Linked DNA regions of Homo sapiens: region 1 is linked to region 2. The links come from fine-mapping of genetic effects on gene expression. A gene starts in region 2. The other region holds a variant in brackets. All regions are shown on one strand. Distances are between the middles of the regions.

Region 1 (5,489 bases), 86 kb after region 2:
AGACACAGGCTATTTCTTATTAATTTACTTATTCTCCTTCATTTTCATTCCCTTTCCTCTCCAATAAGCAGCCATTCTGATAGGCTTCACATGTATCTGTTGAAAGGGTTCTTATGTATACATTGTGTATATATCACCTTATAGGGAAGTTGTTCTGCTCCTTACTTTTTCACATGATGATGTTATATGTGATTTGACCTCGATGATTTTCTGTGGCTAAGTTTTACATGAAATTAGTTTTCCTGAATTTTTGCAGTTAAACGAGGGCCAGGAAAGTATTTCTAACTCCACGGAGCTGCTGCTTGTGTAGTTTTTGTGTAGTGTTCCCAAACAGGGCAGCTTGCTTTCTGAAGTCTCCAGGCTCTGTCCCTTCCCCATGGGTCTATACTTTCTCTTTCTTTCCTCTATTTGCCTGTATTTTGCTCAATTTTGATTTCACTCACAGTGGTGGCAGGTGGCCCTGGAGGGTCTCATGGTGGGCTCCTTGCACTCACCCAGGGTTGGGGAGGGCAGAACTCTCCCTATTTTCAGCTGCCACTCTCAGTTGGTCTCCTGCTTTCCAGTGAATTCTGTTGACTGCTCTTGGATCCATTAGCCACCCTTGTTGTTTATTTCTTCTTTCTCCTGTATAGACATTGGTATCATGAAGGTCTTGTGTTAGTGGTTTATTCCTACCACCATTTGTATTTGGGGTTTTCTCGGCCCATTTGAGCTGTTATAGCAGAATACCTGAGACTGGATAATTTTGTTTGTTTTGTTTATTTATTTATTGAGATGGAGTCTCACTCTGTCACCCAGGTTGGAGTGCAGTGGCGTGATCTCAGCTCACTGCAACCTCCTCTCCCGGGTTCAAGCGATTCTCCTGCTTCAGCCTCCCGAGTAGCTGGGATTACAGGCGTGTGCCACCACACCTGGCTAATTTTTGTATTTTTAGTAGAGACGGCGTTTTGCCATGTTGGCCAGGATTGTCTCGAACTCCTGACTTCCGGCAATCCGCCTGCCTCGGCCTCCCAGAGTGCTGGGATTACAGGCGTGAGCCGCCGTGCCTGGCCGAAACTGGATAATTGATAAAGAACAGAAATTTATTGCCTTACAGTTCTGGAGGCTGGGAAGTCGAAGATCAAGGCATAGGCAGGTTTGGTGTCTGTGAGGGCTCAGTCCTCGCTTTGAAGATGGCACCTTGAATGCTGTGTTCCCTCACAGCATAAAGGTAGAAGAGAATGAACCTGCTGCTTCATAAGGAGCCTAATTCCATCCATGAGCCCTCCATCCTCACTACTTAATTATCTCCTAAAGACCCCTTCTGTTAATACCATTATGTTGGTGACTAAATGTCAACATATGAATTTTTATGGGCACAGACCATAGCAAGGCTCGTGGGGATATCTCATGACCTAATTTGTTATAAACCTAGTCTATGGACTTCTGGTTTTGTTCTTTAGTTGCACTGCCTGTTCTTATTTGGAGATTTGGAGAGATTTTAAAATGATGTTGCTGCCCCTGTAGCCATCTTCCCAGAATCTACTCCCCTTACCCCATACTTACCTATATTTACATGAATCGTGAGGTGCTTTAAATATCATTTGTGTTTACTTAGCTCACTGAGCATCATGCCATTAGATGCATGCTGTGTGTGGCTCTGTTGTATTATTTCCAACTGCTGTACAGTACTCCACTGGGTGTATCCGCCTAATTTCACTGATCTACTCCCCAAGTCATGGAAACCCAGATTGTCTACAATTAATCATTTAGTTCCTTGCATTGGATCCTTATGGACCTGTGCAGTGTCTTTCAGCAGTGGAGTTGTTGGGCTAGAGGGTGCATGTGTACTTTATTTAACGACGGGGGCTGATGGCTCTCGGAAGGCTGATCTAGTTTCCACTCCCCCAGCCGTATATTAGGGTTGCTCTACCTGTGCGCTCCAAATCCCACTCTAGAATGTGGCAGAACTCCTGGATCCCCTCCATTCCTCACTGGAACTTGGTGAGGCTGGGAATCACCATCTTTAGACTTCTCTCTCTACACATACCATTTCTGCTTAGCTGTGGCTACATTATGCAGGTGCAGGGTAATTGCTAGACTCTCCAACAGAAACTAGGGTATAGGACATTCTGCTTTCAGCTACCTTCTCAGACCTTCTGGGGTGTGGGTTGCAGAAGAGGGATTAAGGACAGCTCCTCCAGTTCTTCTCTGCCTCTTCCCAGCTCTAGCCTAGAAAACGCTCTTTCCTTCTCTTTCCTGTCTGGCAGGGACCTTCATAGGACCTATCCTATAATCCCCTCTAGAATAGGTTTATAAAACTCTATGTTCAGA[T/C]CTCTAAGTATTGCTCTGAATATAGAGGGAGTTTCTAGAATGTGAGAGTCACTTTTTATATCTCTGCCATTCCTGGCTTGCAAGACTACTGACTTTCTAGCCCAGAGTCTCAAACCTGGCTACATGTTAGAATCAACTGAGAATGTTTTCAACCATACCACTGCTTGATGTAACCCAGATGAATTAACCAAACTCGCTCTAAGTGGGACCTGGGCATCAGCCAAGGCTGAGAACCATACTTCAGGGACACAGACAACCAGCATGGAAATCGAAAACTGATTAGTGACTCTGTTGTTCTAGGTGGTAACCTGCACTGCCTCCAAAGGACATTGATCAATTTTGAATGAATGCCATAGCAGTAATGTGTGAGAAGCTGCAGAACAACAATATTAAAATATTTTTAATATTAAATATTGAATACTTACCATATATGTATATACATATGTGAAGGGCATAAAGAAAGCTTAAGTGGGAGCAGCACCAAATCCTAAAGCCCTCACCTGTGTGCTTCTCTCCATTGTAACCTCTTTTTAACAGATATGATCCCTATGCTGAATATTTTGTCCATTATTTCTTTGCTTCATTTATTGCTATATATTAATCTCCAAATGTTTAGCATTGTGAGCTTTTCAACCTAATATAAATGTCACAGTGTATTTATTTTTCAGTTATTTGCTTTTCTCATGCTTCATTGAGAACGTTTTTTTTTCTCATTCCATTTTTCCACCTCTGTTATTTGGAGATTTTACCACTCTCAATGTCTATCTTCCAGTGGTTAATTTAGACGATTTAATATGTACACTTAGCAGATTCTAAAGTTAATGCGGCTGTCCCTTGGTTTCTTTGGGGGATTGGTTCCAGGAACCCCTGTGGATACCAAGATATGCAGATGCTTAAGTTCTTTATGTAAAATGGCATAACATTTGCATAAAACATATGCATATCCTTCTACACTTTAAATTATTTCTAGATGACTTATAATACCTAATATGATGTAAATGCTATGTAAATAGTTGTAATGTATTCTTTTTATTTGTATTTTTAAAATTGTTTTCTTGTTTTTTATTCATTTTTGGTTTTGAATTTTTTTTCTTTTTCTTTTTTTTTCTTTTTTTGAGACAGAGTCTTACTCTGTCGCCCAGGCTGGGGTGCAGTGGTGTGATCTTGGCTCACTGCAATCTCTACCTCCCGGGTTCAAGCGATTCTCCTGCCTTAGCCTCCTGAGTAGCTGGGACAACAGGCCTGCACACCATGCCTGGCTAATTTTTGTATTTTTTTTGTAAAGACAGGGTTTCACCATGTTGGCCAGGCTGGTCTCAATCTCCTGACCTCAAGTGATCTGCCCACCTCAGCCTCCCAAAGTGCTGGAATTACATGTGTGAGCCACCATGCCTGGCCTGTTTTTGAATATTTTTGATCTGTACTTGGTTGAATCTGCAGATGCAGAGCCCACAGACAGGGAAGGCTGACTCTATATATCTTTACTCTCACCCTAAACAAAATTTTGAAACTCCTACTCCCTACTGCTAAGATATTGTCTAGTATTATAGTTCCATCTTTTTCAAAACCTCAAATTATCCATTTTTATTATTGTCTTGTAAGTCAACTTTTTTAGGTTGACCTGCAGTATCTGTGCTCATCATTTGTTCCGGTATCTCTGATTTTCTATCCAGGATAATTTTTTTTTTTCTTCCTGAAGTACATCCTTTAGAATTTCCTTTAGAAATCAACCAGCTCAAATTATTTTCTGAAGATTTTTTATTTTATTCTTTTCCTTGAAAGGTAGTTTCGTTAAACACAGTTATTTTTCTCTCAGCATACTTGAAACTTTTATTCCATTGTTCTCTGGCTTTTATGGTTGCAACTGAGAAGTCTGCTGTAAGGCTAATTATTTATTCTTTGTAGTGATTTGCATTTTCTGTCTGGTTGACAAAAGAAGAATGGAATATCTTTGCATAGTTTTATAGTATGTGTCTGTGATAATTGTTAACTATTCACTCTTAAAATATTGCCTCCTCTCCTCTCCTGTGGGACTCGGATTCTATATATGTTAGACTTCCCATTCCATCTGCCATGTGTCTTAACCTCCTGAGATTTAGATTAAGCTTCTCTCATGTTAGATTTATATAAATGCCCCATGGGTGTGTCATGCCTGGTCTTCATTCTGACTTTTCACTCATCTTGTCCCTTCTCTCCCTCACACCTCATTACTACCCCTCACTGCTTACACAGAATCTATCTGGCCTTCAAGGCCCACCTCACATTCCCATTCAGTGCCTCCACAGAGCCTTCCCTGATTTCTCAACCTCTTCCTTCTTGTTTATTTCACAGCATTTACCATCCTTTGCATGAGACAACATGGTATAGAACAGAGAGAGCACTGGACTTGGAGTCCGAGGACCTGAGTTCAGATCTGCCTCCACCACTTAATAGATTCTCTGTGACTATTAAGCCCTGTGACTTTGGGTGAATCCCTTCTTTTCCTGACATTCAGTGTCCTCAGTTGTGAACTGGTTATAACAGGGTTGATAGGAAGACCAAAGGAGAAGGGTCACAGAGGCCCCAGATCGTGCCTAATGCTGGCTGTGACATAAGCGTCTCACAGGAGCCTGAGTGTGTCGTTTAACCTCTGTGCGTCAAAATGGAAGCCATTTCTGGGAGGGTAGGGGTCAGAGAGCCAGATATCAATGGTACACTGTGAAATGTAGCCATGAAGCAATTCTTAAGTGAGGAAGCCCTCACTGAGCTGAAATCCTTGGCTCTGAACCGTAATCCTTCAATCCATTTTCCACACTTGAACATTCTTATATCTTTCTTCTGTATAGGAAACATCAGTGGCTGTCCGCTGCCCTCAGAATTAATCCTTTCAGTGGTATGGAGAGCCCTTTGGAGCTTGACTGCTGCCTATCGTACACCTCTGGCCATTGCCCAGCTCCCAGCTTAGCCCTCCCTCCAGCCACAAAGAGCCACTTGCTAATGACTTTTGCAATCTTCCCTCCTTGCCTTGCCCCCTCTTGTCCCTTTCTGGACTCAGTCTAAACATCACTTCCGCCGCTGGGCTCCAGAACTGGGTGGGGTGCCTCCCTTAGGTGCAGCCACAGTGCCTGAGCCAATAGCTTATGTGGCCTTTATCACCATTGCTCACAGTTAGCCTTTTATTTTTATATTACAAAATT
Region 2 (5,218 bases):
GTGAAAAATGAAAGCAAAATAAGACCAGTTGAAAGGCGGCAGAAAACCTGTGTGACTACTCCGTGGCTCCCCTGCCTGGTTTCCAGCCGCGGACTCTGCTCTTCGGCGCGACCCCTGCTCCTGGGGTCCTCTGGGGTCCTCTGGGGTCCTCCCGCACACCCAGGCCAGGCACACCCAGGTTGCGAAGCCGAGTGCCTCCCCGTGCGGCCGCCAGGGAGCGCCCCAGGCCTGGCCGAGTCCCCCGCCCTCCACCCCGCCAGGCCCAGGAGAATTGATAGGCGGGCCCCGAAGCACGTCTTCCCGGAAACCGGACTTCACCCGCTCCCGGGCTGCCATCCGCGGCTGGGTGACGCTCACGTCCCCGCGATTCGGTGTCTCTTGGCCTCCTGCCCCGCTGACCTGGGAGTGCCAGGGATCACCCCGCCCCCAGCGAGATCCCCTCTATCGCACAAAATGGGCGCTAGCGGGGGTCATTCTAGTCCGGCTGCCTCACTCTCCCGACGGTCCTCCAGGGTGGCACCATCACCGTTCTCGCCCGCCTCCAGCCGGCCCATTCCTGCTGCTCCCTACAGCGTTGTCCCTGCCCCGTGCCCTCTTGTGGTCGTAGGTATCTGGCGGCCCGGGAAAGACAAAAAGAAGCTGCCCGCAGGAGCCCAGACCCTGGGGGCCTTCCTCCCCTTGTCTCCTCTTTGGACTCGGGGGTCTCCCACCAGCCACGGCGAGGGGGAGAAAGAGAATAGCTGGGCAGAGGCTAGGGAAGACCCCCGGTCTCAGAAACTGAGGGGAGCCAGGACTCCCGGTGGGGGAGTCGGTGCAAGCCCTGAGGTGGGTGGATGGGAGTCCAGGGCCACAGCTCTGCAGCGGACAGGCGAGTCCTGTGGCGGCTCTAGGAAGGTCTGGGCACACTGGGACCAGCTAGCTGGACCTGGGTGGGGAGGGGTGGGGCGTCTGACTCCACTCCTGTGACCTGGACATTGCCTAGCTGAGCAGGAGCTTTGACCCTATGGGCTTACAGCTCATCTGAATCTGCTTAGTCCATCTTCCTGTTGTGTTAACCTTGCAGAGGGGGAAGAATGCCAACTCTCCACCCCTCTTCCATCACTCTTGGGTACCTGATCCACCTTCCACCCTCATGGGCAAGGAAGGGGACAGGAAGGTCACCAATCCAACCAAGCCACAGTGCCAAATCCTGTTGGTTCGTTTGTTTTCCCTTGGTTGGGTTATGTTTTCAAACCATCAACAGATTCATAGTTGCTAGTGGATGTCAAATTTCAAAACGGGGGAGTCCCAATACAGTGACTTGTCCATTAGGAAGCCATAGGCAAGCCACTTACTTTCTCTGAGCTTCAATATCCTTGTCCCAATAAGAAGGCATCTGTGATTTGCTCTGAGCACATATTTAGGGTGAGCTTTCACCCTAAAGATCTCAGCAACGGCAGCTTCTACCCACCTTCACACACCAAAGAGAGGGTGGCTTCCCTCCCAGCAGAAGGCAACATCCCGCCATTCCAGTGTGCTTCTGATCAGGGCACAGAGAAGAGCCAGTTTCATCTTCTTTCTTTTTGGTCAACTCCAGGCATCTGCAACAAACAAGATTAACAACGACCATTAAAACTGGCCCCTGGAGGGTTTATCTGTCAGCCACGCATGGCTGCAGGATCTCATTATATATAGGCCAAAGGGAAAGGATGTCTGCTTCCTTTCTGTCCTGGAATTCCAAGATAAAATCCCCTCCAGTTGTCTCTACTGATTCCATTTTGTTTTCTTTCTTGGCTGTAACACAGATAGGAGGAAAAATCTTTCCTCCCCCAAGGCAGAGTTTTAAACGCATCATCTCAGAATGCCAAATGTTCTGGAAAGGAAGAAAGTTGGCAGCGAAGGAACCCGCAGAGAGAGGGGCTGAGAGGGCTGAGGGGCCCAGCAGCTTCTGGCAGGCTCCTCTGGTCTGTGTTTGAAATTGGCTGAAAAGACATGGAATTTAGTAGGCAAGTCTGCCTCCTTCTCCTCCTCTTATCTGCAGAGGAGAGATCAGTTCCCAGCTGGCCGGGGCAGTGTCATTGATATAGCTGGTGTCATTGTTACCTTCCACTAACAGATCACTCGACACCTACCAGCCCAGGCAGGGCTGGGACTGGGCATTTCCTGGCTGAGCTGGAGGCTTGGGCCCTTCCCATTGTCTCAGAACCCCAGGTGATGCCAAGACATGGGCTCTCCTGGGATGCCGTGCTTGGTGACCCAGGAGAAGGACTAGATTGCTCCTGGTGGTTGCTCCCCCTTGCAGAGTCCCACCTGCCCCTTTGGGTCCTGTTGCCTGGCCTCTTTTGCTGTCCTGGGTAGAGGAGATGAGTTCGTCGCTGGCTGCAAGCTGAGGCCAACTGACAATGCTGCACAGAGAAGGGGCACCGAGAGTGGCCCCGGATTGAGCAGTCCGTAGTGCAGAGCAGCCCCTCGGGCGTTCTGCCTGGCCCTGCTTCCCCTGCTGGCTGCCCTTCTGGTGCGTGCATCCCAGGTGGCATCATGCTGCAGCAGATCCTGCACGACATGTACATCGACCCCGAGCTCCTTGCCGAGCTCAGCGATGTGCAGAAGCACATCCTCTTCTACAAAATGCGGGAGGAGCAGCTGAGGCGCTGGAAGGAGCGGGAGACTTGGGAGGCCCTGGCCCAGGACGAGGGTCTCAGGCCTCCAAAGACCAAGCGAGGTACGTGGCTGGGAGTCACAGAGAGGTAGGCCACCAGTCCCCCAGGAGGTAGAAAAATTAGCAGGGCCAGGCTGTGCCCTTCTTCAAGATGGGCACTGGGGTGATGAGGGCTGGGGGCTTGAAACCCTTGTCTTGTGGGCATCAGGTCCCATGAGCCTGTGCTTTTGCCTTTTGGCCAGGACCTTAGGGCTTCGAGGCTGCTGCAGAGGCTGTCCAGCGGCCCTTATTGGAGTCGGGGAGTTGGGACTTGCTTTGTCTTGTTGTGGAAGGCCCGAGTTCTGGGAAGACACCATTGAGACTTCAGATTGTGCTCCGACGTGGTTGGCAATGGTAGGGTGAACGACGGCATATTTGTGACCCTTGCCATTGGTTCTGGGCCAGAGTGTGGTGTAGATATGCAGTTCCTTTCTCCTTGGCATGCGTGGCACACCAGTTCTTGGCTAGGGCCCCTTCTGTGGACTGTGCCTCTCCCTCCAGATCCTCCGGCAGGAGGATGCTGTGGGTTGTCTCTGGAGCCCCACTGGGCATCCGGAGAGAGGGCATCAGGGAACGTCCCACACAATGAATGACCATCCCCAAATGGTCGTAGCAACTGCAGATGAGAAGCAAGGGCCTAGCCTACATTTCAGGTGTTTTGTATGCAAAGTCATGTGCCAGTCAATCCTATGGACTGGTACACCTGTGGGTGAAGGAAATCATCCAGGACCCCTGGGCCAGAAACTGGCAGGCTGCTGAGGCTTGGCTTGGCACAGGACTCAATCCTGCCAGGGATTGTAGTTTCTGTGGATGCTGCATGCACTTTACAGTTTGCAAGGCTTATGTGCCTTCACCCTTTGAAGTTTTCAATCCAGAACAAAGTCCTGTTTCAGGGCTGAGCACACAGCTCCCTTGGTGATCTGGCTCTTCTCCATGCCAGGCTCACTGCTGGCCAGTCCCCACCAGGTGCCACAGGCCACACCCACATCATCTGGACATGCTTGCTCTTGTCTCTGGTCTTCACATGAGTGGCTCTCACCGTTGGGAATGTCCTTCTGCCTTCATCCACCTGACAGACTCCATCAGGAGTGGCCCCCCTGCCCTGGAGTGTTCAGGGATGCTCTTGCATAGGGCAGTACTTGCTCCTCTGTGGCTGCCTGGCATGTAGGACCCACGCCTGCCCTGGCATTTGCCACCCTGTCATTGTCATTCCTCATCTGCTTGCCTGGCTCTCCGATGGGCTCAAAGGCACTGGTGTGTGAGGGCTTCCTCCACTCTATCTTCCTCCCCTGGGCCCAGCACAGAGGTGGCACATGGTGTTAAATCCTTGTTTTGAACAAGACACAGCAGGACCCTGCCGGGGAGGTTGGGGCAGAGCTGTGACTTGGCTGCAGGTGGCTGCTGCCAAAGCTGGGGCCTTCCGGGCTGGGCTGCGCTGGCAGCTGCATCACTAACTGGTGAAATGACAAGCCACCTTGCCAGCACCACCCGGCCTGAGCCCTGGGGACTCATGATGCCTGCATGATGACTCTTCTTGGAGGGAGACAGATGCCTAAAAATTTAACTGCAAAAATATTTATACAGAGATTTGTCACACATAGACATCTACATTTTCATGTATAAATTATACATTAAACTCATTTGAGTTTCTGGTGCAGAAGATCCTTTTTCTGGTAATTAATTTTCTGATTTATAAAGAATGGAAAAGCAGGAAAGCACGCCGAGGAATGTGTGTATCCCAGGTCAGGATCCCGCTTGGATCCTGGCTCTTTGCTTCGGTCCTGCCTTTTGGAACTGTCTGGGCATGCCACTGGGGAGCCTGGGGGCTGGCCCTGCCCAGGAGCCGGAAGAGCTTTCGGCCGGAGGGTCCAGGATATACAGTATCTGCTTCATGTCCTGGGGTCGTGATGAAGGGTGGCAACAACTTGTGAGCTTTACGTTGACTGGGTGCCTACCCAGCCCTTGCTGCTCCCGTGTCCCTGCGGGGTGGCAGGGCAAGCTCCCTGATTTCATTGCAGATAAGGAAGGTGAGGCTCAGAGAAGTGATGCGCTACATCCAAGGTCATCCAGCTGCTACATCTCATGACTTGGATCTGGGGTCTGGTGACTGATTTTTTTTCTGTTCATTCACTTCCAAACTCGGAACTCCAATTAAACAAGTGAGCTGTGCACACATTCACTTGTTCACTCATTCACCAATTCATTCACTTATCCAGCATTACTATGTGCTGATTTCAGTGAATGGGGCAGTGCTTGTCCTGGAGACGGTGGGTAGATGGATCATAGGGAACACAGCCAACTCGAGTGCCAAGGGTGAGGCTTGGTTCAAAGCAGCCGTGCCGTGTCCCAGGGCGGGAATTGTGCGGGGACGGGCTCCACGGAGGAATCTTCTCTTCCTTCCCTTGATGTTGCCAGAGGACTCAGGAGGCTCTCCAGATGCTGGTGAGACCCCAGCCCCAGTTGATGTCCAGGCTCTTGAAACTGTCTTGAGAAAGAACTCGGGAATGAGTCAGAATGATAGGAAAGGCAAGAAACTGTTAG

Which allele goes with the higher level. Alleles are on the strand shown, and positions count from the first base shown. SD is a standard deviation of normalised expression in the study named.
With allele T in place of C in region 1, the expression in lung of the gene that starts at base 2,088 in region 2 is higher (small effect, 0.37 SD a copy in GTEx).

The links.
Region 1: its variant is fine-mapped to the expression of SH2D4B in lung (TOPMed, PIP 0.91).

Annotation. Positions count from the first base shown.
Region 1 is chr10:80,622,163-80,627,651 of GRCh38, forward strand. All of the region lies in intron 6 of SH2D4B (SH2 domain containing 4B), which reads left to right. Among named protein-coding and RNA genes, the nearest start is that of LINC02655, 25 kb to the right of the region's middle. The variant T/C (reference allele first, on the strand shown) is at 2,314.
Region 2 is chr10:80,535,815-80,541,032 of GRCh38, forward strand. It overlaps SH2D4B (SH2 domain containing 4B), which reads left to right and starts at 2,088. Exons shown (of 8, transcript NM_001388272.1): 1 at 2,088-2,701. The coding sequence starts at 2,518. TSPAN14-AS1 (TSPAN14 antisense RNA 1) reads right to left here and starts at 128. Exons shown (of 2, transcript NR_120661.1): 1 at 1-128. RefSeq lists a silencer at 126-315 and enhancers at 386-485, 3,792-3,931, 4,969-5,148.